4 linked regions of the Homo sapiens genome follow. The protein of the gene in region 3 purifies or fractionates together with the protein of the main gene of each other region. This does not show direct contact. Each region holds a gene or a part of one and is shown on either strand. Other genes may lie near its edges. The genes, in order: CACNA2D1, CD109, PRSS33 and ANKRD40.

Region 1 (6,911 bases), on a different chromosome or scaffold from region 3:
AATATAACGCCAAGGAGAAAAGACTACCAATATATGTCTGTGGATGTACAAATAAATAATTCTAGGTTTATAAATCTAGGAAGTAATAGGGTTAATAGGCAGGGGTGGATGTTTGATTGTTCAGTTTGTTTTAGATAGAGGTGTTCCAAATGACTTTAGACCAGAGGGAAAGAAGCCTGCTGAGAAGGGGTACGGAATATGCTTGAGAAAGAAGAACTGATGAAGCAAGGTCCCAAGAGAAGAGGCAGGAGTGGGATCAAAATGATTGATAGAGGAAATGAAGGTCTCTGGGGAAAGAAAATTGAAGAGATAAATTGGTATAGAATGAATCCAGATGTTCAAAAAACAAATGTAATCTACGTTACACTTTCGTGTAGTTTTTTTTTTTTTTTTTCCTTTCCTGTTAAAATGTCTTTATCAGACATAGGGGTCAGATTTTCCAGTAATCACCATCACGGGTACCCACATACTACATTCCACCCATACGTAGGTATTTTTCAAATTCTCCAGAGGAAAAAAAGATGGTAGGCCTACGTTATACTAGATTCCATATAACATCAGGCTCATCAGTTTATCACGTGAGCATAGGAAGTCAGGTTGTAAGCTGGTATAAGTGTAAAAGGAATCTAATAGGGCTTTTAGGGAAAATTCTTTATACTTCATTGCCTCAGCTGCTGTTCAAATGTTAGATGCATAGAAGAAAAGCACATTTCAGATACTCTAACTTGTTTCTTTCTTTTAACCTACTTTTCTGAGGTCTTTAAAGAAACATGGAAACATTAGGGAACTTTTTTTTATAAAAGAAGTCCAAAGTCTGATGAAGTACATTCCTAAGTGCCTTGATGGAGAAGGCATGTTAGAAGGTTAGACTTAAGTAAAGGCATCGCGAGTGAATTGACAGTCATCCCTCTGTGCGTGGGGGGGATCAGTTTCAGGATGCCCACGTGTATCAAAATCAATGCATACCCAAGTCAAGTCTGGAAAGTGGCCCCGCAGAATCTGAGTATACAGAAAGTAGGCACCTGGTATATGTGGGTTTTCCATCTTGCAAATACTGTATTTTCAATCTGCATTTGGTTGAAAAAAATCCACATATAAGTATATCCATGTGGTTCAAACATATGTTGTTCAAGGATTGACTGTATTTGTGTGAGTTGAGGTTTGTAATTGTAAAAGCACTATTTAATCCCAACTTTTATTTCCACAATCCAGAATTCTCTCTTAAAATTATTTATGACAGAGCCATCTGTCTCTTCCAACTGGATCTTTTAAAAAGCAGAAAACCCAAACCGCGTGGTGACTTTAAATGATAAACTTTTATTCTGAATATACTGTTTTTGCACAAGATTTAACACAACATTTTCTGGGATTATAAATATTTTATAACAGTATTATACAAATTTTTACAAAATGTTTTTATCAGGCTAGGTAATTTTCACAAAAGTGTCAAGAGAACAAAATAAAGGGGAGAAAAGATCTATTGTTCACAAAAGCCAGTTGGCCTTTTGCATGAATGCACACCATTTTAATAAAAGTATTCCTAAAAGCATGATCCGACACTCATACAACACAACAAAAAAGACAGCTTTACTAGGTCACATTATAAACTCAACTGGCATCTACACAAGACAGTATCCCATTAGTTTCAGTGGAATTTGAGATAACTGTGTGAACTAGAAATAAGGTAGATGAAGAGTTGTCTAATTCTTCAAAAATCTGGAATTTTTTTCAACACTCAAAACATTATATTGGTTTGCTCTTTACAGAAATGTACTGTGAATATTGACATTCTGCTATGGGAAACAATACAAGTTTAGATGAAAAAATATTTAAAATTTTGGGCAAGTGAAATAGTTATTTCATTCTATTCTTTAAAAAAAGTAACAACATCCATTTTGTTTCACTAGGTCAGACTATACCATTAAACATTTGAACGTCTAACATGATCAATGGAATAGATTCAGAGTTTTAAATGAAGACAAAATCTTAAGCTTTGTTGGTCACAGACAAAGATTTAAATGAGATTTAAAATACAAGAGAGCATCAAATAAGCAAGTAACACTTGGGTTGCAAAGGTCACTTAAAAGGGATACTGCCTATTTGAACCCGATAAGTCCAGTTTTAAAGTTAATAAAAGGAATATTATAGGAAAACTTACAAATGGCAGGAACACTGTTTTTTGTTTTTTTTTTTCCCAAGTTAAGCAGTAACACCTCAAGCATTAGAAACATGAAAAAAGATCATACTAAAATCTTATAGGCCCAGGACCTAAAAATCTCTTCAATCAAACTTGCTAACTATGTCATGTTAAAAACCTGTTACAAATATGGACCACGGTTGGTGTTTGGCAGTAATGCTGGTTGTTTAAATGAGGAAAATAAAAAGAAATCATTAATGCAAAATTCTTTCTTGTTACTCAACACCATTGCCAAGCTCACTTGAACTCTGTTTTAGTGACTAACTACACTAAGCCACATGAGTATAACAAAAATTAGTTAAAGCAGTGTATAAACTTTTTTATTGATCTGTTGTACTGTTCAGTCGTTGGAAATCAATATTAATAACAGGCTATAATTTAAGTTCTTGTCAATGTAACTCAGAAAAATACTAAATGTAATGTAATAATTTGATGGGATGAGTGTTACTGTCTTAAAAAATATGCTAAAAGCATGAAGACTAATATTAGTCATGGGAACAACTTTTATTCAGCTTGTTCTTACCCAATTTGTAATTGCATTTATGGTTGTCATAATATATAACTTTATAGCAGAAAATAAAGGTTTATAGCAAAACTCATGCATATAAATATATTTTGATGGCAACAGAAATTAAATAGGATCCTGCCAAGAGATGCCAAGTTTAACCGCGATTAATACAATAACAATGTAATTGATGAAAACATATACTCGACATTAGCCATGAAAATATATTTAATAGATTTTGAACATAATTTTAAGGTAGTTTGTTGTATGCTGGAAGCAATTCAATTGTTTTAATGTGCATTGTTTATATACACAAACTAACAATTTTATATTTTGATACCCCCTTCCCAACACTATCATGATTTAAGATAGTCTAGCAAAAATTGAACAATAACTTTTAAATATTTAACAAACAACATGATTAAAACATTGTTACTAGAGTGAGAAGTTTTTTTCCCCACATATATTTTAAATCACTTTGGTGTTTTCTAAAATGTCAATACCAGTTATGAATGACACTACAAAATCACAACAATGCATTAGAAATGGTAACTGATGTCAACTCTTAGAACAATAGTTGGCAAAGTGATTCCATTTCCCCCCACCTTTTTATTGAAAAAAAAAATCTTGAAATGTACACAAATGGTACCTAAGGTATATTGGTGGTGGGAGGGAATTACAAATGTATGCAAAGCTAAAAACAAAACAAATGTTATCTTTTAAGCTACGTTAAATTATTGGTTATATCTTTGATATGTGGAGCATATTAAAGCATGCTGGATAATGTTAATAACTTTGACTTAAAAAGGATATGTAAGAAAATTTCCAGCATATACACATACCAGTAATTGGCATGTTCCAAAAAAAGAAAAACTGCATTTTATCATAAAAAATATCTACATACGTTCAGCCTTCAGTAAAATTATTAACTATTCTTAGAATTACACATTCATAGTTTTTACCTTTTCTTCAAATACTGTTTGCTCCAGAAAATAATTTTTAAAAGCATAAATAATCTGCTACCATATTAGTCTATAATGAAATATCTGATTTACTACACTAACCATTTTCACCAATGAGGCTGTATAAAAAACAACTTTTATTATTCACAATCAAGTATTCATGTGCATACATAGAGATTCAAGGTTTCCTATTTGTTCAGATTATTGTAAAACCCTTATCAACTTGCATGGAAATTTTGGCCAAACGATCATACCATTTAAAATGGAAGGGCAAAAGCAGCAGTAGCAGGAACTTTTGGATTGTATGTGCTACTATTGAAACGAACAAAGAGGAAACCTAGGATGAATCTTCATTGAGAACATATATGTACTTTTCAAAAAATAAATGTGTCAAATCTGATTTATGTACTTAAAATATCTGTACATAGGTTATCAGGCGAAAGCATGAATCTGTATAAAATTCATTAATTCTCATTTCACCATTTATCTAACCCCAATCATTCAGCATTTACATTGCACAGTATATTCAGAGTAGTTTAACAACATTTTAAAGATGACTTAAGTGCATTTACACTGCAAGGTTCAGATTCTTACATAACAATATCACTCAGTTAACTTTTCAATGACTACACTCTACAGTAAGAGAAAAAACAACTGAAAAGTTAAAATAGCAGCAGCATCATGCAAAATACCCTTGGTAAACCAAAGTTCATTTATCACAAGAAAAACATTTCCCCCTCCCCCCTGACAAGCTTTTCTTAGAGCATTTTTAAATATCTGGCTAGCACTACATAACTGTACTGTGAACAAAAGGAACATTACATCAAAGCATTTATTAAGGGCTTGCTTACATTTATGAGGAAATATGTCACATATTCTAATTTCTCCCTCAAGCACCTTTAGTTTAATAATTTCTTAGTTACTATTTTCAAACCATCAATTCATTACCCCATCAAAATTGAATTGGTCATCAATTGTGTTTTATTTTTGGCAAAGAAGCCGTTCTTCATAAGGCATTTTATTCATGGCAAATTTTTCATAGAAAATTAGCCATTATTTATATTTCAACAATTTAGACCAATGTTAATTCTCTCTTTCTCTATATATTTCAATAATTGCTACTTAAAGCAGGAATTAACTTTTCACAGAAGAAAAAGTGAAGGCAAAAATAATTTCTTTCCCCTTAGAGATTTTCTTAGTAAAATTGCAGCAAGTCAAAATTCCAGGTCAATATCAAGACATTTCTTATGGTTCATTAACAATTGTATGGGGAACCCTTTCACATGTAATCACCAACAATGCAACAACAAACTCCCAAATTTTCCAATAGAGGACACGTATAGGATTTTGCTTTGATGTTACACATAGATGATGCAGCATTCACACACGTTTAAGGATCTGACACCCTGACATGCAGCCAGTGGGTGCCTTAGGAGTCTGCGCCTTAGTGTTATGCCATGGAACAGGCCCAGCTAATGTTTGTCTGATTTTATAGCTGACCCTACGTTACTGTAATTGAGGGCAGGGCTCATGTTTTGGCAGGGTCTGGAGTTTAACTATGCAGATTTGGTTTTTAGAAGGTCATAACAGGCGGTGTGTGCTGCCAGATACCAGCCAAAGTAGTAGAAACTGGATTCCAATGATATACCACAGGGAGGGATTTAATCCAGAAACACCACCACAGTCAGTATAATCCTCCTGTTGTTAAAAAAAAAAGAAAAGAACAGAAAAAGAAAAATCTAAAAATCTTGAAAAATATTTAGTAACACATCTTTCAGAGTAATCCATATTTAGTTCACTTTCTGAACTTACCTTATAAAACTGCTGTAATTGAAATCCAAAGAAATTACTTTCTCCTAGATTTTATCATTGAGGAATTTCCCTAGCATCATTTGACAAATGCTTTAAATTTTTAGTTGTAGCTTTTGATGATTATGAAAGAAAATAATAAATGCTGTTTGAATAATATACTAATTTTAAAGAAAAAACTTTCACAGTATCAAAAATCCTATATATTTATAAATGCAAGAAATAAATGTAAAATTTAATAGTAGGTTTTATAATTCCCAAGAATTATGATTTTAGCAACTATGCTCCATATGGTAAAGTTGGGGACTGGTAAAATAAATACATTTCCATTTCCCATATTTCTTATACAATTTATAAGGCTCAACATAGAGTGCAATCATAGCATCTGGACCTTCATCAAGAATTAAAGTAAAATGGGAATAATGTATTTGAACCATTGTTTATGTTGGTTCAAATACATTATTTGGACACATATAGGATTTTGCTTTGCAAATATATATCCAAAATAGAGAGCTAAGCTAGGAAGAGATTTGTCTTGAGACAACCAAGAAATATTAGAATGAATATACTCCCATTAACTCCCCACAGTCTAGTGGTAGCTCATTTAGTTCCCTCTTAATGCAAAAGTATTATTCATCTTTTATTCCTAGGTTCTATATTTGATAACATTGTCCACATCCTTTAATTCCTTTTAACATAGTGAATTTCATTTTTAAAAACCTCCTTATTATTTTTAAATTTTATTTCAATAGATTTTGGGGAACAGGTGGTTTTGGTTACATGGATAATTCTTTAGTGGTGATTTCTGAGATTTTGGTGCACCTGTCACCCAAGCAATGTACAATGCACCGAATGTATGTAGTACTTTATCCCTTACTCCCATTCCTCCCAAGTCCCCAAAGTCCATTATATCATTCTTATGCCTCTGCATCCTTATAGCTTAGCTCCCACTTAGAAGTTAGAACATACAATATTTGGTTTTCCATTCATGAGTTACTTCCCTTAGAAAAATGGTCTCCAACTCCATCTAGGTTGCTGCAAATGCCATTATTTCATTCCTTTTTATGGCTGAGGTGTATTCCATGTTGTATATATACCACATTTTCTTTAATCATTGGTTGATGGACATTTAGGTTGGTTCCACATTTTTGCAATTTTGAATTGTGCTGCTATAAACATGCATGCGCAAGTGTCTTTTTCATAAAATGACTTCTTTTCCTCAGGGTAGATACACAGCAGTGGGACTACTGGATCAAATGGTAGTTCTACTTTTCATTCTTTAAGGAATCACCATACTGTTTTCCATAGTGGTTGTATTAGCTTACATTCCCACCAGCAGTGTACAAAGTGTTTTTTTTTTTTTTTTTTTTTTAACCACATCCATTATTTTTTTATTATGGCCATTAGTGCAGGAGTAAGGTGGTATCACATTGTGGTT
Region 2 (5,688 bases), on a different chromosome or scaffold from region 3:
TCCTCAGCCCCACACCAGCTCTATTTCAGGGGTGAGAGTCAGAGAGCACTGCAATATGTGCTTCATGGGATTTCGATTCGAAGATCCTAGACCAGGGAGACACTGTGAGCCAGGGATACAACAAAATACTAGGTAAGTCACTGCAGACCGACCTCCCTGCAGTTTGGGAAAGAAGCTGGGTTTGTGGAGAATCAGAGCATCTTGACATGACTGCTGACCTAAAGATCCCTGGCATTGGCCAGGGATCCTGTGGAACCTCTTCTAGTTCAGGGGTGTGAGCATTAGACTGCCAGTTGTCTAGTGACATCTGATGCTTGCTGTGAACTTTTAAGATCCCCGAATCCTGAGCACCTCAATCTTTAATTGCCCTGTATTCCGAAGGGTAATATAATTTATCTGGATGGAAATTTTAAAGATGAATCCCCCTTTTTTCTTTTCTTCTCTCTTTTCTTTCCTTCTCCCTTTCTTCTTTGCCTTCTAAATATACTGAAATGATTTAGATATGTGTCAACAATTAATGATCTTTTATTCAATCTAAGAAATGGTTTAGTTTTTCTCTTTAGCTCTATGGCATTTCACTCAAGTGGACAGGGGAAAAAGTAATTGCCATGGGCTCCAAAGAATTTGCTTTATGTTTTTAGCTATTTAAAAATAAATCCATCAAAAATAAAGTATGCAAATGTATCTTTTAAAGTTAATTTTTAAAAATGCTCTTATTTTAGTGAATTTTCAGAAATTATAGTGGAATGGATGCTCATATATTGCTTATGGATATTTTGGATACCAAAGTAGGAATAACTGACATTCAGTATTTTAAAGCTGGCAAACCTGTACATAGAAAATAGATCCCCAGACAGTGGTCTATGAAGAGGGCAGTTAAGTATCAAATACTTAATTTTCTTGCCTTTTTTTCTTAAGTGGGGAAAAGTTTCTAGATCTCTTACACCTCTGACACAATCTGTTCTAAAACAGGCACTTGTAATGTTGGGGCCTCCTTGTAAACGTGTTTTTGCCCTTTACTCTCTGGGAGTTCTTTAAAGGTGAAATCATCTTACAAAGAAATTGGGGGAGGGTCTTGGCAAAGGACTTTCCCCTCCTCTTTCCTGGCCTGGGAACCTTATACTGACAATCAATACTTTATATTTTAAAGTATATAATTTATAGTTAACTTCTAGTGTAATATATTAGGAAACACTAGAATGGAAAGGCCATTGGAAGACAGGTTGTATCTTTTTTAGACCATATTTCCTTGTTTAAAAACTATCATTTGAATACTTTTTTGGTGAAGAACTCCATGTTTTCAAGTTAAAGGTCACCTCGTAGGCCAGGCGCAGTGGCTCATGCCTGTAATCCCAGCACTCTGGGAGGCTGAGGCGGGTGAATCACAAGGTTAGGAGTTTGAGACCAGCCTGGCCAATATGGTGAAACCCCGTCCCTACTAAAAATACAAAATTTAGCCAGGCGTGGTGGCATGCACCTGTAGTCCCACCTACTCGGGAGGCTGAGGCAGGAGAATCACTTGAACCTGAGAGACAGAGGTTGCAGTGAGCCGAGATCACGCCACTGCACTCCAGCCTGGGGGACAGAGTGAGATTCTGTCTCAAAAAACAAAAAACAAAAAAGTCACCTTGTAACTCATCTCTTTTTATTGTAAGTTTATTAAAAATGAAGAGGACAACAATGAGAAGGAACATAAAGGGTTAGCTAGCACTGTCTCCTGGTGCATGGGGCTGTGCAGATGTCCCGGCCACTTCTTCCTTCATACTTCCCTTAGAGAACTTGCTCTGCTACAAGCAGTGGGCTTGGACTAAAAGTGATTAAAATACCACAGGCATAAGGAGAAAAGGAGTATATGTAGTAGTAATAATTACTAGTATAAATTATTTTCTTCACATGCTATGAGTAATAATATTAAAAAACTCATTTTACCATTAAGATTCCTTATGCTGAAGCTCTTCCATTTAGAATACTGTCAATGTCATTTACTGGTATGAACTAAAGTCCCCCTTCTTTTCCACTCACTGGGAACCTTAGTAAAACACCAGCATATCTTACCTCTCTTTCTGACTGGCCGATGCTTCCAGAGACTGAATGTTGGGAAAACCTAGTAGCCAAACAATTCTAGGACAGAATAACATTTTTATATTTGGTTCCACCATCTTATTACATTTAGTTATAGTTTTAAAAAAGAAATTCAAGCCCATTAAAATATGTCTGGTCAATGAAATGCTTCCTTTTATTGTGTTGTGCTATTGTACTTTGTTTTTCAAAACATTGTAAAAATAGTATCTTTGGTTTAGTATTTTGGATTATATATTATAATCTGAGGAGTGTTTTGCTTATGTAGAATCCAGATATATTTCTGTTACCTAGGAGATGTTACTTACATATGTAATACTGTATCCTGCACGTGGAAATATTCAGAATTGTAGATAGCATAACTCTCCCTGCTCCTATTCTTTTGAGCCTAGGTATAATTTTTTTTTTTTTTTTAGAAAAAGACATATTTAGCTTTAATTTCTATTTATGCTAAACATATTTATAAGTAGTCTGTCAATATAATACCAACTATTTTTATTTTTACATAATTCAATTATTTCATTTGACATGTCTGGCAGACTCAAGACATTAAGTAAAAAATTGGAACTATGATTTTTCTTTGTCATTTTTTAAAAAAGAATTATTTTATTAACCTGCTGGCATATAATCTGGAGTTCTTTTCACAACCTTACTTTTTCTGATTTGCTTTATTGAATGATTGAATACTCATTTCTTTCTAAAAATATGTTGTAAATTCTCCCTTGGCAAGATTTCTCCCTATGAGGGTAGTTATTATTTGAGTCTGCCAAGTGGTTACCATGGGGCAAGGTGCCATGATGTATTCTTGGGTGCATTGGTTTTTTGCGCATTGTAAATTTAAGACACTTATAGTAAGTGGACTCATTCATAGATGAGTTTCAGAACCTTTTACGTTCTCGGTAGAGGCTTCTGTCGGACAGGCAGAAGAGTGTATTCCTCACTTTTTTTTTTGTCTTCAAATTCCAGTAAGGCATAGCACTTTTAAGAAATTAGAATTTTTCTATCATCTATGCAAATGATATTTATGTTAATATTAAATATCTTATGTTACACTGGGAGTAATTTGAGGTGCAATTATTTTTATTACTACTTTGAATAGAGGACCATTATCCTTCTTTCTTCAGAAAACTAAGAAGTAAGTGTAACTTTTAAAGTAAGTATATATCAGTGAGAGTAGGCTTGTTTTACAACTATTTCTAGCCAGTGAGTTGTGTTTTCATGTCTCATCAAAAGACAATACCACATTGCATCATTTTACAAAATATGTTGTCATTTTCATTTCAGTTGTAACATAGGAAAATAGATATTTCCTAGATGATTTCTGAGTTTCTTACTGCAAAGAACAGTTATAAATTGGTATACATGTGTCTCTGTAATAGGGATAATATTGATATATCTGTTGCTACATATTTAAGAATCATTCTATCTTATGTTGTCTTGAGGCCAAGATTTACCACGTTTGCCCAGTGTATTGAATTGGTGGTAGAAGGTAGTTCCATGTTCCATTTGTAGATCTTTAAGATTTTATCTTTGATAACTTTAATAGAATGTGGCTCAGTTCTGGTCCTTCAAGCCTGTATGGTTTGGATTTTCAGTAGGGGACAGTTGATGTGGAGTCAATCTCTTTGGTACACAGGAAGCTTTATAAAATTTCATTCACGAATCTCTTATTTTGGGAAGCTGTTTTGCATATGAGAAGAACACTGTTGAAATAAGGAACTAAAGCTTTATATATTGATCAAGGTGATTCTGAAAGTTTTAATTTTTAATGTTGTAATGTTATGTTATTGTTAATTGTACTTTATTATGTATTCAATAGAAAATCATGATTTATTAATAAAAGCTTAAATTCTCATCTATTTATTATGTGTTCTTTTTATTTTAGCATAAAGCATGTCTATAGCACACCTCCCTTATTTAAGCTTATTTATGAGAAACAGGATATTTGAGGCTAGCTTAGAGTAGGGATTATTGTGTTGCAAGGTAGCAACATAATGAAGTTGAAGAAATTTGATTACCAGCCTCCTTTACCTCCCCGCTCAGTGGAGAGGTAAGTAATACACAAATTAAAAAAATTAATGTGAGGTGAGCACTCACTTAATCTCTGGAAATTATATAGAAGTATATAGAACACATAGTTTTTATACACACAGGAAAATGGAGGCACAGATTGTCTCAGCCAGAACATAAGATTTCATGTACATTTTCTTAATTCCCACCCAGTGTTATTTAATATTTCTGTTGCCATGAATTTTCTGGGCTTCTGTGAAATACTAAAGATAGCATTTCACAATCGGGGGTTCTCAACTGGAAGTGATTTTGCCTTCAGCAACCATTTGCCAATGTCTGTACATTTTTTGGTTAACATAATTGGAGGTAGTGCTGTTGTCATCTAGGGAATGGAGGTCAGGGATGCTGCTAGACATCCTACAATGCGCCAGACAGCTCCTTACAACAAAGAATTATTTGACCCAAAATATGAAAAGTTCTGAGGTTGAAAAACCCTCTAGCTCAGTGATGCTGGGCCCTTCTAGATCACCTCATGATGCCAATTGTTTAATATGATTAAGTTAATACACTCTTATATAAGAATAGAGTCGTTGGAATCACTGGACAGATACTTAGATTAACAAATAAGTTTATATCCCAAGTCTAGGAAACTTCACTTGGAGACTGGGAAAAGATGAAGTAATTATTTTTTGAAAATATCTATAATGGTAGTTTCCAAACTTGATAGACATTAGACTCTCTTAAGAGCTTGGTTTGACAAACATTTCTGGCCTTACTTTAAGAAATCCTAATTCAGCATATCTAGAATCAGGTTCTGGATCTGAATTGTTAAGCAAATAGGTGATTCTGATGATTATTTTAATCTGAGAACCACTGGATTATTTAATGAGTTTTCCAGGCCTCACTGGCCTGGGTATGAAATGGGATCCTGGAAATAGCATCATCCATGCCATCTAAGTGATGATGCAGGGCCTCCAGCCCCGCCGACAGTCCTTCCCAGTGATTCCTGGGGGCTTCCAGGACTGTTCTGTGCTCTCACAAAAGATCCCAAGAGCTGTCCCCTGGGATTTGCTTTGTTCTTTCTCTCCTATCTGGCACACTTTGTTGATGTTCAGTGTAGCAGAGACTGCTACTTTCTTCCTCCTATTCAACCCGTTCTCTTCCTCCTCCTTAGTCTCAGGAGGAGCTACATTTCCCAGATGACTTTGCAGCAAGGTAGAGTCCTGGACCAGGTTCTGGTCAGTGGGATATAGGCTAAAGATATTAGTGATACTTGTGAGAAGTATTCCTAAAAGGAAGGGAGTAGGTGCCTTGCCCTTTTTTTTTTTTTTGCTTTTTCTTCATCCTGCTGCCTGGACTGTGGATGACTGACTGAAGCTCTATCAGTTTTTTGGTCCTTTAGTGGGAAGGCCAAACCCTTAGGACTGGAGGTTGGAGATCTTGAAGGAGCCGGGGTCCCTAATGACTGTGGAGCCACCCTGAACCACCTACCTTTGGATTTCTTCTGCAAGTGAGAAAACATCTACTTTGTTTAAACCAGTTGTGGTGGTGGGTAGGCCCTAGGGTGGGCCCCATGACCCCTGCCTGCTGATGATCAGG
Region 3 (9,081 bases):
GGCTCCCCAGGAGGAAAGGGGAGGGAGGCGATGCTCAGGCCTGTGCCTGGACCTAAAGGGGCTGCGCCTTTGAAGTTTACCTTCCCTTATCTTCCCTTCCCTTCTGCTGATAGCCCCTGTCAGCTCCAGAGTAGGTTTTGAATTTTCCAGGTTTTGTTTCTTTTCCTTCTGCAGCTGTGGAAACTGACCTCTATCTATTGGAACGGGTGGTCCTGGCTCTGGAGACAAGGACATGGCAGAGAGGGGACAGGATGCCAGGCACCAGGCTGGAAGGGGACCCCAAGGGTGGGCAAGGACCTGCACGTGGGCTAGCTGTTGGCGTCTGGGTGCAGGTGTCAGTAGGGTGGCCTGGGCCCCAGGCTCACCCTGGGAGTGAATGGTGGCCAGACACAATGAGAACAGAATCTGGGCCTGCCCCGGGACTCCTGACCCCTCCTGGGCCGAGGGCCTGATACCAAGTGCCCAGCCTCTTGCAGTATGTGGGGAGGTGGCCGCGCTGGCCAGCCCACCTTTCCCACTGGGACACCTTCATCACAGTGGGGCAAAATCTATATTAGTTTTTATTGCTGTATAACAAGTCAGCACAAATGGAGCAGCTTAAAGCACACATTTATTAAGTCACAACTTTGTAGGTCAGGAGTGGCTCAGCTAGGTTCTCTGCTTAGGGTCTCTTTAGGTTGAAATGAAGGGATTGGCCGGCGGGGCTCTTATCTGGAGGCTGGGGAAGAACTTACTTCCCAGCTCCTTCAGGGTGCTGCCAGAATCCAGTGCCTTGCGGCTGTGGGTCTGAGGGTTCCGATTCCCTGCCGGCTGTCTCTCAGCTCTTAGAGGCCGCTCATGGCTGTGGTCCCCGTGTCCTCAAAGCCAGCTATGGAGGATCTCCCTGGTGTCAAATCTCTGTCATGCTGTGAATCTGACTTTCTCCAGAAAAAGATGGGCACACAGGCCAGATGGGCAGCAATTGGTTTGCCCATCACTGCGTGCCTTGCGCCCAGCCCTGGCCAGGGCCAAGAAAAGTAAATACAAGCCAGGAAGGGAGTGGGGAGTGTGACTCCCTGGGACTCATGGCAGATTCCTGGATGAGGGTTGGTGGAGTCAGAGCTGGTGATCCCCAAAGAGGAGAGGAGGCAGGAGGTGGTGGGTGGGGGGTGGGGTGGCCTTTAGCTTTTTTAGGCATCTTGGCCTCGAGGCAGAAGGGATGTGGGGTATAGGCAGGTGCCTGGATGAACCAGGAGGCTGAGGGACCCCAGCAGCTGGCTCCAGGTCAGCCTCACCGGCTAGCATTAGAAGCTGACGCGAGCCTGAATCCAGGGGCTATATGTGGCCACACTGGTGTAGACCCCTGGACGGTTGGGCAGGGCACAACCCTTGCCCCAGCTCACCACGCCCACCAGGACCCAGCTCCCAGACTGCAGGCAGGTCAGAGGTCCCCCAGAATCACCCTGCAGGAGAAAGAGGAGCCTAAGTCCCAGCCCTCCCAGGACTTCAGTTCTCAGGGTTCCAGACCCCTGGCGTGGTGCCTCTAGGTTGGAGGCCAGGATCCTGAGCCTGAGTTGGGATGTCCTGGGTCCTGGAGTTCAGGGAGGGAGGGTGCTGGGCACAGGGAGGGGACTCCGGAGGCTGGGGAGGCTGGGTGCACACCTGGCAGGCGTCCTTGTGGCCCTGGGGGTAGCCGGCACACAGACTCCCAGGCAGCACAATGCGCTCAGCCTGGGGCACGTCCGCGCCCACGTGGTAGAGGCCGTCGCAGGTGCGCGAGTCCAGCAGCGGCACCCTTACTCCTTGTAGCGGTCGCCACTCTGGGAGGGGCACTGGGGGAAGAGGAGGGACCTCTGAGAGGAAGGCGTGGAGCGGGGGCCAGTGGGAGAAGCTGAGCTCTGAGTGAGAGGAGGTTTTGTTCCCTAGAAGCCGCGCTGGGTCCTGGATTGGGGCAGTGAGGGGCTGGGATTTCCAGTCAGATGGAGGAGGACGTGGGGGCTCCCGGATGCCTCGGAGCCCCGCCCTCCTGCCTTACCTCCTGGGCGGAGGCTGCCCCAGCCGGTGACCCGGCATGGTGTGCCGGGCGGCGGGCGGGCGCCGGGCACGGGCAGGCAGACGGGTTGGACGCGAGCGCTCAGGGGCACCGGGCGACGCAGCTGCAGCAGTGCCAGGTCGCCGCGGGCCCCGTCCTCGGAGTAGTCCGGGGGCAGCAGCACCCGTCGCACGGGCACCGAGAGCGTGCGGGGCGAGGTGGAGCCCAGACGCAGCGCCCCCAGGCGCACGCGGTACTCAGCTGGCAGTGCCCTCCTGCAGGACAGGAGCGGGGGACTACTTCCAGCACCGGGTCCTCGACCCCCTCCAGCCCGCCTCGACCCCAACGCCTCTGCCAGGCCACGCCCGGTCCTCTGCGGGCCTTGCCTTCCTTGCACACCCCGCCTGGGCCCTCGGTGAGCGCTGACCTGGGGAAGCAGTGCGCCGCTGTCAGCACCCACTGGGGGGCGATGAGCGACCCCCCGCACACGTGTGCCCCACGATGCTGGATGCTCGCCTGCCACGGCCACTCTCCGTCCCGGCCATCCCGGCCCCCAACGATCCGACTGGACATGCGGGGCTGCCCGCAGGCTAGAAAAGGACCAGGGGCGGTGAGGGTTGGCTGAGGACCTGGGGCCTGGGAGGCAGGTGTTGGTGGGGAGACACGGGGCCGAGGTCCAGGAGGGGCTGACTCGGGTGGACTCCGAGGCTTCCTCACCTGCAGACTTCCTTCCCTGAGTCCCAGCAGCTCCTGGAGGAGGAAGCAGGGAAGGGACCAGATTATAGATTTGGTGTCAAATAACGGAGTTGGAGGGGAGGCCAGAGATGAGGAAGGAGGGTGAAACAATGTTGCCCTGACATTGCGCCAGGCTTTCGTGCCGTCTGTTATCTTATTTAACCCTCCCCAGAGCACTGTGAAGGTGCAGGGGGCAAGGGCGTATGAGCATGACACCGACAAGCACATCGAGGTGTGGTGAGGTCAAGGTCAGTGGCAGAGAGGATTGAGCCCTTGGAATCAAGATTAGAAAGCCCAAGAGTGCTCCAGGGAGCCCGGCCCAGGGAGCAGTGAGATGGGAGAACTGGGAGCCAAGGTGTCTGCGGCCCTCACCCCCAGTCCCTGTCCCCACTCACCCAGCACCAGAAGGAGCAGGACCTGGAGACAGGAAACCCCTCTCATTCTGTCTTCAAGGCTGGGCTGGGTAAGGGTGGCACTGCCTAGGGCTTGGACTCTGGTCTGGAGCCAGCAGGGAGAAGAGAGGAGAGTCCTGGCCCAGGGGCACCAATCCTCACACCAGCCCGTCACCCCCTCCGTGGTCCTTCTGTCTGTCCTCAGCTCCTGGTGGGTTCTGGACTTATCCTGGTGGCCCAGGCTGTATACCCTTCGTTCTGCCCAGGGCCCAGGTATGCAGCACCCACCACCCAGATATTTGGGCATCCTTGGTCTCGACAGAAGCCCTGGAGCCTAACCCCCCTCGGTCATCCTCACTCCCTCCCTCATCCCCCTCCCCCATCCTCACCCCCTCCCTCATCCTCACCCCCTCCCTCATCCTCACTCCCTCCTCCATCCTCACCCCCCTCCTCCTCACTCCCCTCCCTTATCCTCACCCCTTCCCTCATCCTCATCCCTCTCTCATCCTCACCCCCTCCCTCATCCTCACCTCCTCCTCTATCCTCACCCCGTCCTCCATCGTCACCCCTGCTCCTCCTCACTCCCCTCCCTCATCCTCACCCCCTCCCTCATCCTCACCTCTCATCCTCACCCCTCTCTCATCCTCACCCCTCCCTCATCCTCACCCCTCCTCTATCCTCACCCCCTCCTCCATCCTCAGCCCCCTCCTCCTCACTCCCCTCCCTCATCCTCACCCCCTCCCTCATCCTCACCCCTGTCTCATCCTCACCCCCTCCCTCATCCTTCACCCCCTCCCTCATCCTCACTCCTCTCTCATCACCCCTCCTCCATCCTTCACCCCCCCATCGTCACCCCCTCCCTCATCCTCACCCCCTCCTCTATCCTCACCCCCTTCCTCCTCACTCCCCTCCCTCATCTTCACCACTTCCCTCATCCTCACCCCCTCCCCCATCCTTCACCCCTCCTCGTCCTCACCCTCATCCTCACCCACTGGCTGCCCCTGCAGCCCCCACAGCCCCTGGCTTGCTCTCACCCTCACAGCCTGGCGCCTTCTGCTGACTGGGGTTGAGGGAGGGCCTGGGGGCTTAAAGTGCCAGGAGAGCGCGAGGCTCAGCCAAGGAGTAATGAACAGGGCCGGGGCGGGGCTGTGGCTTTACCGGACCAGCCTCAAACAAAGATGCTTTGAGCAGAGCTTCAGAGGTGGCAGGAAAGGGTCAATGGGTTTCTCAAAGGAAGCCTGCCTTGCGCCAAGGTACTAGAAGTGGGGGCTGGCGGAGAGCAGTGGTGCGGGTAGGTGCTGGGAGGGGTGGCAGTCAGGTGGGGAAGCTCTGCAGGATCCGGGGCAACTCCTCTCCAAACCTGACCTGGGCTCCCTGCAGAGCACACGTTGCTGGAGCTTCTGCGCTCCATTGTTCTGTCCAGAAATCCCATCTCAGACGGAAGTCCTGGCCAGACAGCTCCACCCAGAGACCCCAGCATGGCCAGCCCCCTTCCAGATCCGGGGTCTGGAGCAGCTGGAGGTGGAAAGGGACTGGTTCAAAGTTGGTGGCACTCCTTACTTGACCAGAGGCAGGGGGAGACTTGACCTTGGGGACCAGTGCAGTCTTTGGTTTGGGGTGGCCGAGACAGAGCAAGATGCTGGGGTCAGGGGACAGGAACTCCCCTTCTCTCGAGGCCCGTGGAGGACCGGGGCCCGGATGGTCCAGGGCCCTGTAGTTCCCTCTTGGGCTCATACACAGTGTTCGCTGCCTAGAAGTCTCTCAAGTCCCTCTCTGCATAGTGAACTCCTCTTATCCCTCAGCCTTCTGCTCTGCCACCTCCTCCTGCCTCCTTTGCAGCCCTGCCATAGTTGTACTTTTTTCCTTTTTTTTTTTTTTGTTTTTCTTTCTTTTTTTTTTTAAAGAGACAGGGTCTTGGCCAAGCATGGTGGCTCATGCCTGTAATCCCTGCATTTTGGGAAGCCGAGATGGGTGGCTCATTTGAGGTCAGGGGTTTGAGACGAGCCTGGCCAACATGGTGAAACCTCGTCTCTACTAAAAATACAAAAATTAGCCAGGCCTGATGGTGGGCGCCTGCAATCTCAGCTACTCGGGAGGCTGAGGCACAGGAATTGCTTGAACCCGGGAGGTGGAAGTTGCAGTGAGCCGAGATTATGCCACTGCACTCCAGCCTGGGCGACGCAGTGAGATTCTGTCTCAAAAAAAAATAAAAAGGGAGAGAGAGACAGGGTCTTGCTCTGTCACCCAGGCTGGAGTGCAGTGGTACAATCACAACTCCCTGCGTCCTTGACCTCTGGGCTCAAGTGATCCTGCCACCTCAGCTTCCCAAGTAGTTGGGACCACAGGTGCATGCCACAGCACCTAGCAATTTTTTTTTCCAGAGATGGGGTCTTGCAATGATGCCCAACTTGTTCTCGAACTCCTGGGCTCAAGAGATCCTCTTGCTGTAGTCTCCCAAAGTGCTGGGGTTATAGGCATGTGCCACCGAGGCCAGCCCATAGTTGTCCTTTGACAGGGACTTGAGGAGGTTTGATTTACATCCTCTTGTCTCCCCTCCAGCATCAGGGTCTGGGTCTGTGTCCCTGTAGGAGTCCGCTTGGGCTGCCATAAACAAAAACCACAGCCGAAGGGGCTTTCTTTTTTTTTTTCTGAGACAGAGTCTTGCTCTGTCTCCAGGCTGGAGTGCGGTGGCGTGATCTCGGCTCACTGCAACCTCCACCTCCCGGGTTCAAGCTATTCTCCTGCCTCAGCCTCCTGAGTAGCAGGGATTTACAGGTGCGCGCCATCACACCCGGCTAATTTTTTTTTTTTTTTTGTATTTTTAGTGGAGACGCGGTTTCACCTTGTTGGCCAGGATGGTCTTGATCTCTTGACCTCATGGTCCGCCCGCCTCGGCCTCCCAAAGTGCTGGGATTACAGGCGTGAACCACTGCGCCCGGCCGTGGGGGCTTAAACAACATAAATGTATTGCTCATGATTCTAGAGCCTGGGAATTCCAAGATCAAGGTGCCAGTAACATAGTTTTCATTCTAAGGCCACTTTTCTTGGCTTGTTGGGTGGCCTGCATCTTGCTGTGTGCTTCCGTGGCCTCTGTGTGCATGAGGGGAGGGAGAGAGACAGGTTGCACTCTTGTCACTTCTTATGAGTGACACAGAACGGCTGGGCTCCCACCTTCAAGCCTGGAGCCCCAGCCCTAAGTGAAAACATCTGACCCTGTTTTTCTGCCCAAATGATTGCCTTCTTGGCCCACCCCGCCCCCTAACCTGTACCGGTAAAAACCAGACCAGATGGCAGAAGAAAAGGAAGAAAAGAGCAACACAAGCAGCTGACCAGCAGGGATACAAGCTGCTGAGCCTTGGGGATACATGCGGCTGAGCTTTAGCTGTGGATAGATGCGGCTAACTTCAGATGGTGCGACTTCAGGGAAAGATCACCTTCCTTCCGCATCAATTCCCCATCCTGCTGACAGCCACTTTTATCACCCATTGAAATCCTCCGCATGCACTACCTTCCAAATAGCTCATGTGACCTGGTTCTTCCTGGACACTGAACAAGAACTCGGGTGTCAAAAAGGGCAGGTGCAGGATGCTGTCACCCTGACCCTTCACTGAACTGTTAATATTTAGCCATCCACGAACAACAGCTGAGTGAAACGAGCCACTCCAGTTCCTGCCCACGAAGGGGGTCACAGTCAAGGGAACAAATCCCGTCTCATAAGGACACGAATTCTATTGGATTAGGGTCCTACTCTTTTTTTTTTTTTTTTTTTAAGACAGGGTTTTGGTCTTGTTGCCCAGGCTGGAGTGCAGTGGCACAATCTCGGCTCACCGCAACCTCCGCCTCCCGGGTTCAAGTGATTCTTCTGCCTCAGCCTCCCGAGTAGCTGGGATTACAGGCATGCGCCACCACGCCCAGCTAATTTTGTACTTTTAGTAGAGACAAGGTTTCTCCATGTTGGTCAGGCTGGTCTTGAACTCCTGACCTCAGGCGATCCACCCGCCTTGGCCTCCCAAAGTGCCGGGATTATAGGCGTGAGCCACTGTGCCCAGCAGGGTCCTACTCTTGTGATCTCATTTAACCTTAATTACTTCCATAAGGGCAAATACAGTCACAACAGTGAGTAAGGCTTTGACATATGAATTTTGGAGGGGACACAAACATTTCAGTGCATAACATTCTCCAGTGGGCAGGACAGTGCCCAGCACAGAGCTGGCACTAAGGATTTGGGAATAAGTGGCCAAGGCTGAGCAGGGCAGCAGACTGGGGATGAGGCTGAGGGACACAGAGGAGGGGGCTGGTGGGGACACAGACCCAGCATCTGGATGCAACGTAGACAGAGGGTGGTCTTCAGGCCTGACCTCTGCTGTCCCCGTTTTAGGACCACCCTCAAGACCCGCTCTCTGCAACTGGGCTTTGGCGCCCCGGTCTCCAGCTCTGAGTCCTTGGGAGAGCTGTTGAAGCCTCACCTACCCTGCTTTCCTCATCTGCAAAATCCACCTGGTAGGTTGTGGTAAAGATTAATGGGGTTGACCATGCAGAGCTTGGCACAGTGACCAGCACTTGCCAAATACTAGGAAAGTCCTGCAAGAATAAAAGAAGTACACTCCCACCCTCCCTGAGCCTCCAGAATCTTCTGCTATACCAGGTCGGCTTGCCCTTAGAGGGCATAGTGGGGACAAGGCCAGGTGGGCAGTGTCCCTCTCTGTCATGGTTGGGTGCGGCTGGAGACCTGGACCAGTATGAGAGTGACAATGGACCCTCAGAATATGCAGCCATCCCGGGGGACTTGGCCAAGCACTGGGAGGGAAGCCAGCTAGGAGGATGGACTCCCTGTTCAGTGGGAGCTGGGTCTCTGCCTCTTCAGCGGGAGCTGTGTCTCTCCCTGTTCAGCGGGAGCTGGATCTCTGCCTGTTCAGCGGGAGCTGGGTCTCTGCCTGTTCAGCGGGAGCTGGGTCTCTGCCTGTTGCAATTTGGGGTGAAGGGGGAGGTTGGAGATCTGAGGACACCTGAGGGCTTGGGTTAAAGAAATGGATTCTCACGGCGAAATGGGCTTTTTTCAGGGGAGGGTCTGCAACTGGTTAAATATTGGACATCGGATCTTTGGGAGAGGAGGGAAAGAGCCCCCAGACCCAACCCCTGTCTCAGCTCCTATGTTGAGAAACTGAGGCACAGACCCTCAGGTAGACCCACCTCCCCTTCAGCACCACTCTTTTTTTTTCTTTTTTTTTTAGTGGTAAAAAACACACAATACAAATATACCATCTTGGCCGGGTGCGGTGGCTCACACCTGCAATCCCAGCACTTTGGGAGGCTGAGGAAGGTGGATCACCTGAGGTCAGGAGTTCAAGATCAGCCTGGCCAACATGGCGAAACCCTGTCTGTACTAAAAATACAAAAAATTAGCCAGGTGTGGTGGCGTGCGCCTGTAATCCCAGCTACTTGGGAGGCTGAGGCAAGAGAATCGCTTGAACTGGGGAGGCAGAGGTTGCAGTGAGCCGAGATCGCACCAATGCACTTCAGCCTGGGTGACAGAGTGAGACTCCGTCTCAAAAAAAAAAAAAACAAAAACACACACACACAAAATAAACAAATATACCCTCTTAATTTTTAAGTGGATGGTATAGTATTGTCAACTATATGCAGATTGCCGTAAAGAGATCTCTAGAGCATTTTCATCTTGCTTGACTGAAACTCTCTTCCTTGAACAATAGCTCTGTGTGTCCCTCTCCCCCAGCTCCTGGCAACCACCATTTTACTTGCTGCTTTGATGAGTTCGTTACTTTAAATACCTCATATAAGTGGAATTTTGCAGTATTTTTTGTTCTGTAACTAGCTTATTTCACTTAGCATAAGGTCCTCAAGATCCATCCGCGTTGTAGCATATGAAAGAATTTCATTCTTTTTTAAGGGTAAATAATATTCTGTCAGAAGTTCCTGACCAGC
Region 4 (7,763 bases), on a different chromosome or scaffold from region 3:
AGTTCTGGCACAGCACAGCCCATGTTGTTTAAGATCTTTTCCAGAAGATGGTTATACTTAATCATGCCAAAGGTCTGTGCATGATTAACAGACCTGTTTGGTGGGAAAACCAAGTGCAGCCAGCAGGGTTTGCTCAGGCCCAGCTCTGCCTCTGCTGGGGCAGTTTCCTGCACTGTCGTCCGTACTTCTAAGGCTATGGTTCACAAAGTAAGAGCAAGGCAGGGGAAACCATTCCAGCTATGTAGAAGGATAATTTACTTCTGCCATTGGAGCTAAGGAGGCAAAGTCTTAAGAACAGGTTTGGGTATCAAACTATACATGAACAGGGGAAGAGGGAAGAAGGTTGGAAAGAAGGCATGGGCAGGATGTGAGTTACCCTAAAAAGATTTAACAATTATGGACCTAAAGGTATCTGTAAAATATGAAACTCCTTGCAAAAAAGACAGTAAAAGAGCCAAATGACAAGCTACTAATAAAAGCTAAAGTATAACTTGATTTGAATGTAGCACACCTTCATGAGGAAGGGGTCTTGGCTTATTATTCATAGGTCTGGGATCTAAGCAATCTGCTCCTTTATTCTGAACCTGGCTGCCAAGACAGCCTGAGTCAAGCACCCTGTACATTTGGCAGTTCTGCTTTGTTCCCTGTATATGAATCCCTTGTAGCACCCCAGGTCACTGTTAGCACCTACAGTAGTAACTCCTCAAAAACAGGAAGTGAGAGAGTTACTTCCAGGAAAAAAGGAAAAGTAAGACTAGCTACACCCTATGGCATTTGACTGGATTTGGAAGAATCAGGATGAACTTGTGGTTTTTAATATTTTTAAAAAGTTATACATAGAGAAATATTGATATCTTTCCTGGCTATGTCCTCTCAACGGGCCTAGAAGAAATGATATACCTGTAGCAATGAGGACACCTAGTGACCACATCCTGGTGTCTGAATACCATTCTCGGTGGGCCCAAGTGGGAGGCAAGTTTGCTGTGTGCCCTAAATACCATTCTCCACCAAAAAGAACCAGGGCTTCTTGGAGAAATGACTGATTCCAGGGTTGGGGCAGGAAAAGTTATGCTATAAGCCCGGAACATCTTGCTGCCCCAGAAAGTAAGGCAGTGCTCCAAGAACAATGAAGACACATGCAAGGGACATAAGAACTAGCTTCAAGGGGCTCCCACTGGCCAAATCTGGGATAATTTGAATAATTAAAAAATGATAGTAACAGATTATAACCCACTGAATAAAATAAGAATATATGAGTCAATACTGATATGAATGAAGGAGAAGGGAAAGCCCTTCTTTACAGTAAAATACCAACTAATAAGTAGAGAAAGAATGATAGAAAATCATATCCCACAAAAATAATTGGCCTGGACTCTTCAAAAAGATCAAGATCAAAAATGATAAAGGGTAAAGATTCCAGATTAAAGGAAACTAAAACAACGTGATAACTACATGCAACATATGATCCTGGGCAGGATGCAGGGGGCAGAGGAGTACAGATAGTCCAGATAGATATCAATAGTACAGATAGTACTATTTCTGTAATAGTACAGACAGTACGTATAGTAGATGAGGGAATACAAAAGGCAATGTTTGAGACAACTGACAAAATTTAAACATGGTCTATGGATTACAGAACAGCATTAGCTCAAGATTACATTTCTCAAATTTGGTCATTTGTACTGTAGTTATATAAGAGAATATCCAGCTGGGTGCGGTGATTCACACCTATAATCTCAGCACTTTGGGAGGCTGAGGCAGGCAGATCACTTAAGGTCAGGAGTTTGAGACCAGCCTGGCCAACATGGTGAAACCCCATCTCTACTAAAAATACAAAAAAAAAAAAAAAAAAAAAAAATTAGCCAGGCGTGGTGGCATGCTCCTGTAATCTCAGCTACTTGGGAGGCTGAGGCAGAAGAATCACTTGAACCTGGGAGGCGGAGGTTGCAGTGAGCCAAGATCACACCACTGTACTCCAGCCTGGGTGACAGGGCGAAGCTACGTCTCAATAAAAAAAAGAGAGAATATCCTTGTTCTTAGGAAAGATATAATGGAAAGAATACTGAAGGGTATCAGGGTAAAAGGGCAAAAGGTAAACAATTTGTGAATTTGAGTAAAGGGAGTTCCTTATGTTAGTCATGTAACGTTTCTGTAAGTTTGCAATTATACCCAGAATACCTCATTAAATCCCACCCCTCTGGACACCAACTCCCCTGTTGCAGAGGCTGTTTGCTGATGAGGGGTTACCTTGCATATTAAATGGAAATGCTCCAGTGAAGAAAAATGGCTGGAATGCTGGCGCTGGTCCTGCATACGTCCCATTTTGAGGCTCCAGAGACATTGGTGGCTTGGACGGGACAGAAGAAAACAGGGAGCGGCTCTGACTCACTGGTGGCTGACAAACAGGACCCGGTTTTGTGCTTTCTGGTGTTCTGAGTATGGCAGAGGGGGCCGACACATCACCATTCTGAACTAGTGCCAAAGAGGTGTGGTCCCGGGGAAAGGTCCCTAACAGGGGAGGTTCCCCAGGGGGAAGCAATGGAGGTGAGCCATCTGCAGGGGGTGATGCAGGGGGTGTGGAGGGGCCCCCATTCTGCATCTGGGCTGAATCCTCTGCTGTGGGTGTATAGATAAAAGGGAAGGCTGGGTTGGCCAAATAGTTGGGAACAAAGGGCAGTTCTGACTCCTTCTTCAGCTGGGGGAGGTTGTCATCATCATCATCATCATCATCTTCTTCTTCCACTTAAAAAGAAGAAAACAGAACATTTACACAGTCCTTTCAAAATTATCAAAACAAGGTGTCTTTTGAAAGTGGTGTCTTTTGGTATGTGACATTGGTCAGTGTCAGGTCAGAAGAAAAAAGAATACTTCATTAGGTTTATGATTACCATTTTTATCATTATCTTAAATTTTACAAATAAAAAAATAAAACCTTACAATGCTGACCTCCCCAGAAACAATCTGGAATTACTATCTTGGCACAGTAATTTGCTTTTAGAAATAGAACAGTTGCCGGGAGCGGTGCCTCATGCCTGTAATCCCAGCACTTTGGGAGGCTGAGGCTGGCGGATCACCTGAGGTCGGGAGTTTGAGACCAGCCTGACCAACATGGTGAAACCCCGTCTCTACTAAAAATACAAAATTAGCGAGACGTGGTGGCACATGCCTGTAATCCTAGCTACTTGGGAGGCTGAGGCAGGAGAATCACTTGAACCTGGGAGGCAGAGGTTGTGGTGAGCCGAGATCACGCCACTGCACTCCAGCCTGGGCAACAAGAGCTAAACTCCGTCTCGGAAAAAAAAAAAAAAAGAAAGAAATAGAGCAGTTGTTTGACCAGCATTAAGAACGTAGCCAATAATACCACAAGTCTTCAATGAGTCTGAGGAAATCAAAAGTTCCCCCAAACACAGACTCACCTCCCATAATCTTCCTGATTTCTCTCCTTGATGTTAACTGGACTGGCATTTCTCCTTTTGTGGTAAGAATTTCTTTGTCAGCTCCTGATTTTAACAGGTAAGAGACCACCTGACCATGGTTTCGTTTACATGCCCAGTGTAAACAAGTCCTGTACCAAAGAAAATAATGATTGAAAAAGAGGAGAAGTGATTTTGGATTTCAGATTCTAAACATTAGTAAATAATGTATAAACAAGCCTGTTAGAGTTCAGCTAGAACCAGGTAACCGGGCTGGTAATCTCAACTTTTCACAAAGCCGATGAGCAAAATATTTAATATGCTTAAATTTTGTTTTTAAATTTCATTTCTGGCTCCTGAGAAAAACTAACTTAACCTAGGAGTTTTAATTTCAATAGCCTCCAGAAGGTAAGCTCACTGGCTGGCTAACTCCAATGATACCGTGGAATATACTCTATCAGTATCGCTCATTAGATCATCTCAGTCTCTGAAACATATTTTTCTATTGCTATATTCCTTTTCAGGGACTATGGAAACTCACTTCATATGCCACCTGAAGATTCAATATTATCAGGATAATAACCATCTCCTATCAGCAGCTTGCTCTGTCACTTAAATTATTATTATGACAGCAGATATTCTTGCCTGAATCCCAGTTGCTCACTTTCTTTTTCCTTCTTACTTTTCTTTCCTTAACACACACACAAAGGATTTCCAAATTTCCATTTTTAAAAAGTTGGCTTCTCTAGTTCTCTCCAGAAGGCTACAAACATATCCTCATCTGCGTAAATGTAAGGCACTGCACACATACTTTAATTCCTGAGGTACTTAAAAAATATACATCAACAACCAAAATTCTTCACGAACAGGTTCTTCTAACATATCAGACTCATTTAAGTAAAACTAATCACTCAATATTGTACACAGAGGAAGCAATTCTGCACACTCTGAAGGGCTACTATTTTAATACTGTACAGAAACATAATTAGCATGCCAGCAAAAACTCCATCTTAACAGAAATGAAAGATTCAGAGCAACTAAATCCATCCCTAGGTGCCAGAGCTGACTGTATATTATGGAAGGAAAATACTTTTCGCCTGTGTTTTGAAAGGTCTTCTTTCACCAACTCTCTAACTGAACTGAGATACATATCTTCAGAGCTCTTATAGCCAAATACAGAAATGAAGATTAGAACAAATGTTCAATATTGAAGGTTAGTTCACTAACCTGGGAAGTATAATTATTTGGAAAGTTTATATGATTCCAGGAAAAAGCTGATTTGCCCTGGGCTTAACATTAGTAACTTACAGAAAGTTAGCATGTCTGGCTGGCTGGGAGCAATTCCATTGATGTCTCAGAGTGACATTCTACATTATGGTTCATTAGAATTAGATTATCCAGGTTCCTTTAAGGTGTATTCCATGATGCAATGACAAAATTATTGCTAATTTGGGAAAAATAAGAGTCTCGTTAAGTTTGGGAGAGAAGAGTCTTGATCAAGCTCCCTGAAGGCAAGGAAGTGTTTGCTTGGCATGTATTAATTAATATTTACTGAATGGGCCAGGCACGGTGGCTCACACCTGTAATCCCAGCACTTAGGGAGGCCAAGGCAGGTGGATCACTTTAGGTCGGGAGTTTGAGACCAGCCTGCCCAATAGGGTGAAACCCCATCTCTACTAAAAATACAAAAATTAGTGTGATGGTGCATGTCTGTAATCCCAGCTACTGGGGAGGCTGAGGCAGGAGAATTGCTTGAACCCAGGAGGTGGAGGTTGCAGCGAGCCAAGATTGTGCCACTGCACTTCAGCCTGGGCAACACAGCAAGACTCCATCTCAAAAAAAAAAAAAGTACCAAATGAGTAAACTAAGGATAAAGTGGACCTTGCTTGAAGTAGAAGGATCCAATCTACCCTTGATTCTGGGCAAACTGGAACCTTGAGTGTGTTTGTGTGTGGATGTCTGTGGCACAGGCTTAAAAAGTGAACAATTATAATGATAAGTGAGCCCTCAAAAATGAATGAAGCATGATGAGAAAAATATGCTCCCTTTTGGAAATAAAATGCTCACTTGCTAGTAGTAGATCACTTGTTCGTGGCAAGCTTGAGAGTAAAGGAGGTAATTTACTACCAGTGGGTCTGAGAGACTCTGGGACAAACCAACTTGCTAAACTACCACCCATGTAAAGCAGGGTTAAGTCAACATAGCGTGGCCCCCACAGCCCTGTGCCTTAGTGATCATCATTTACCGTCCAGAGCTGTGCGGCTCTGGGCAGCCATAACTCAGAGCCCCTGCAGCCAGGTAATATTTTCAAGTTCTTCATGAACCAAGGGTTATGCATGACACTTGAATTACAACTGATGTGGGGGAATGATTAGTGATCAATCTAATTGATAGATTACTCTATCTTTGAACTTCAACTCCTTAAGCTTTACATTTGCAGTCAAAATATCTTATTAGTGTCAGAAACTATTTCAGACCTGAGGCACTGGGTGTCATTCATCAACAGGGCATCACTCATTGGTGCTGAAATTGTGATTACTGAGCAACTAAGACTTGAAAGCAGTCACCATTCTGCTTTGCAAATGCAAGAGAGTACGTTTTTTTGAGGGTAACCTTATATTCCATTATCTAGCATATTGCTTCATAATAAGAAAACAACAACAATGGCTAATACAGGTATAATGCTTTACGTGTTGGACATTGTTCTAAAGGCATTACATGTATTAACTTATTTAATCCTCTAAACCCATGAGGTAATACTACTGTCAACATTCCCCCCATTTTACAGAAGAGGAAACAGACATCAGCAAATAAATAAGCAAAGCACGCAGTACGCTAGGTGGTGATGAAGTATGACAGCAATAGTAAAGCAGGGAAAGGCATTAGGGAATGACAGAGGTTGGAAAGGGGCATTGTGCAACTTTAAATTGAGGGCCCAGGAAAAGCCTTGCCAAGAAGGTGACATCTAAACTAAAATCTGAAGGTGGTGAGGAAGCAAACCATGTGATATCTGGAGGGAAAGCATTTAAGAGAGTGGGAAGACAAAACGCAAAGATCTTGAATCAGGACTGTCTGGTATTCCAGAGAAAGCAAGGAGGCCAGGGGAAAAAGGTAAGCAGAAGGGCAAATCCCATGAGATTAGCACAGAGGTAAGGAGGGAAGATGTGGGGACAGGAAGTAGAAATTGTAGGACCCTGTAGGCTTTTACTGAGTGAGATAGGAGCCATTTTTGAGCAGAGTGAAATGATCTGACTTATGTTTTAAGTCAGGATCCCTCTGACCACTGTGTTAATTAAGAAGACTGTATGATATAAGCTTAGGAGCAAGGACACTAGTAGGAGGCTATTGTAATAATCCAAGCAAGAGAAACAATGGTGGCTTTGTATCAGAGGTGTAGTGGTAGGGTTAGTGAGAAGTAGTCAGATTCTGACTGTATCTGAAGGTGGAGCTCATAGAATTGGCTGACTGGATGTCGGCTATGAAAGACAGGAGGCAAGCAGGAGGCAAGCAGGGTGCCAAGGGTTCTGGCCTGAGCACTCCTGAGAGGCTGAGGACTCAGAGGAGCAGGCTTGAGGTGGTAGAGGGATGAGGGGAGACTTGGAATTCAATCTTGGACATGTTGAGTTTGAGGGGCCTATTAGACAGTTCCTCCAATTAAATCTACAAGAGGCCGGGCGCGGTGGCTCACGCCTATAATCCCAGCACTTTGGGAGGCCGAGGCGGGCAGATCACCTGAGGTCAGGAGTTCGAGACCAGCTTGGCTAACATGGTGAAACCCCATTTCTACTAAAAATACAAAAAACTAGCCAGGCGTGGTGGCACACACCTGTAATCCTAGTTACTTGGGAGGATGAGGCAGGAGAATCGCTTGAACCCAGGAGGTGGAGGATGCAGTGAGCTGAGATCACGCATTGCACTCCAGCCTGGGTGACAAGAGTGAAACTCCATCTCAAAAAAAAAAAAAAAAAAAAAAACCTATAAGAAGCCTCTTCAGGCTACCTCAGAATCACTTCACTAAACACCTCCTATGGGGCAGACATTGTGTTTAGGAGGGTAGGTCTGGCATCAGATACCAGGTTTGTTTTCTGGCTCCACTAGTTACTGTCAATCCTATGACCTTGGGAAGGGGCACTGTGAAAAGTGAGGAAACAACTTACGGTTTCTGGGCCTCAGTTTCTTCATCTGTAAATGGAGAGAACAGTAACTATGTCCCCAGGTAGTTGTGAACAAGCTAACACATGTAAAACACTTAGAACCCTATCTGAGCTGGCCGGGCACGGTGGCTCACGCCTGTAATCCCAGAACTTTGGGAGGCAGAGTCAGGCGGATCACAAGGTCAGGAGATCGAGA

Evidence for each region.
Region 1: the proteins of PRSS33 (region 3) and CACNA2D1 purify together in Homo sapiens (affinity purification with mass spectrometry; 2 studies listed by BioGRID and IntAct, with this or other methods). This does not show direct contact.
Region 2: the proteins of PRSS33 (region 3) and CD109 purify together in Homo sapiens (affinity purification with mass spectrometry; 2 studies listed by BioGRID and IntAct, with this or other methods). This does not show direct contact.
Region 4: the proteins of PRSS33 (region 3) and ANKRD40 purify together in Homo sapiens (affinity purification with mass spectrometry; 2 studies listed by BioGRID and IntAct, with this or other methods). This does not show direct contact.

What each region holds. Positions count from the first base shown.
Region 1 is NC_000007.14:81,945,147-81,952,057, forward strand, and holds the end of CACNA2D1 (voltage-dependent calcium channel subunit alpha-2/delta-1 isoform 1 preproprotein), read right to left. Parts: intron 5,363-6,911; coding exon 5,246-5,362; 3' UTR 1,298-5,245; downstream 1-1,297. UniProt on the Homo sapiens protein: The alpha-2/delta subunit of voltage-dependent calcium channels regulates calcium current density and activation/inactivation kinetics of the calcium channel. Plays an important role in excitation-contraction coupling.
Region 2 is NC_000006.12:73,824,376-73,830,063, forward strand, and holds the end of CD109 (CD109 antigen isoform 1 preproprotein), read left to right. Parts: 3' UTR 1-3,938; downstream 3,939-5,688. UniProt on the Homo sapiens protein: Modulates negatively TGFB1 signaling in keratinocytes.
Region 3 is NC_000016.10:2,783,361-2,792,441, forward strand, and holds PRSS33 (serine protease 33 precursor), read right to left. Parts: upstream 4,201-9,081; 5' UTR 4,173-4,200; exon of another isoform or gene 4,115-4,172; intron 3,245-4,114; 5' UTR 3,188-3,244; coding exon 3,142-3,187; intron 2,762-3,141; coding exon 2,729-2,761; intron 2,602-2,728; coding exon 2,439-2,601; intron 2,287-2,438; coding exon 2,015-2,286; intron 1,812-2,014; coding exon 1,642-1,811; intron 1,443-1,641; coding exon 1,284-1,442; 3' UTR 593-1,283; downstream 1-592. UniProt on the Homo sapiens protein: Serine protease that has amidolytic activity, cleaving its substrates before Arg residues.
Region 4 is NC_000017.11:50,697,152-50,704,914, forward strand, and holds part of ANKRD40 (ankyrin repeat domain-containing protein 40), read right to left. Parts: intron 3,566-7,763; coding exon 3,417-3,565; intron 2,743-3,416; coding exon 2,248-2,742; intron 1-2,247.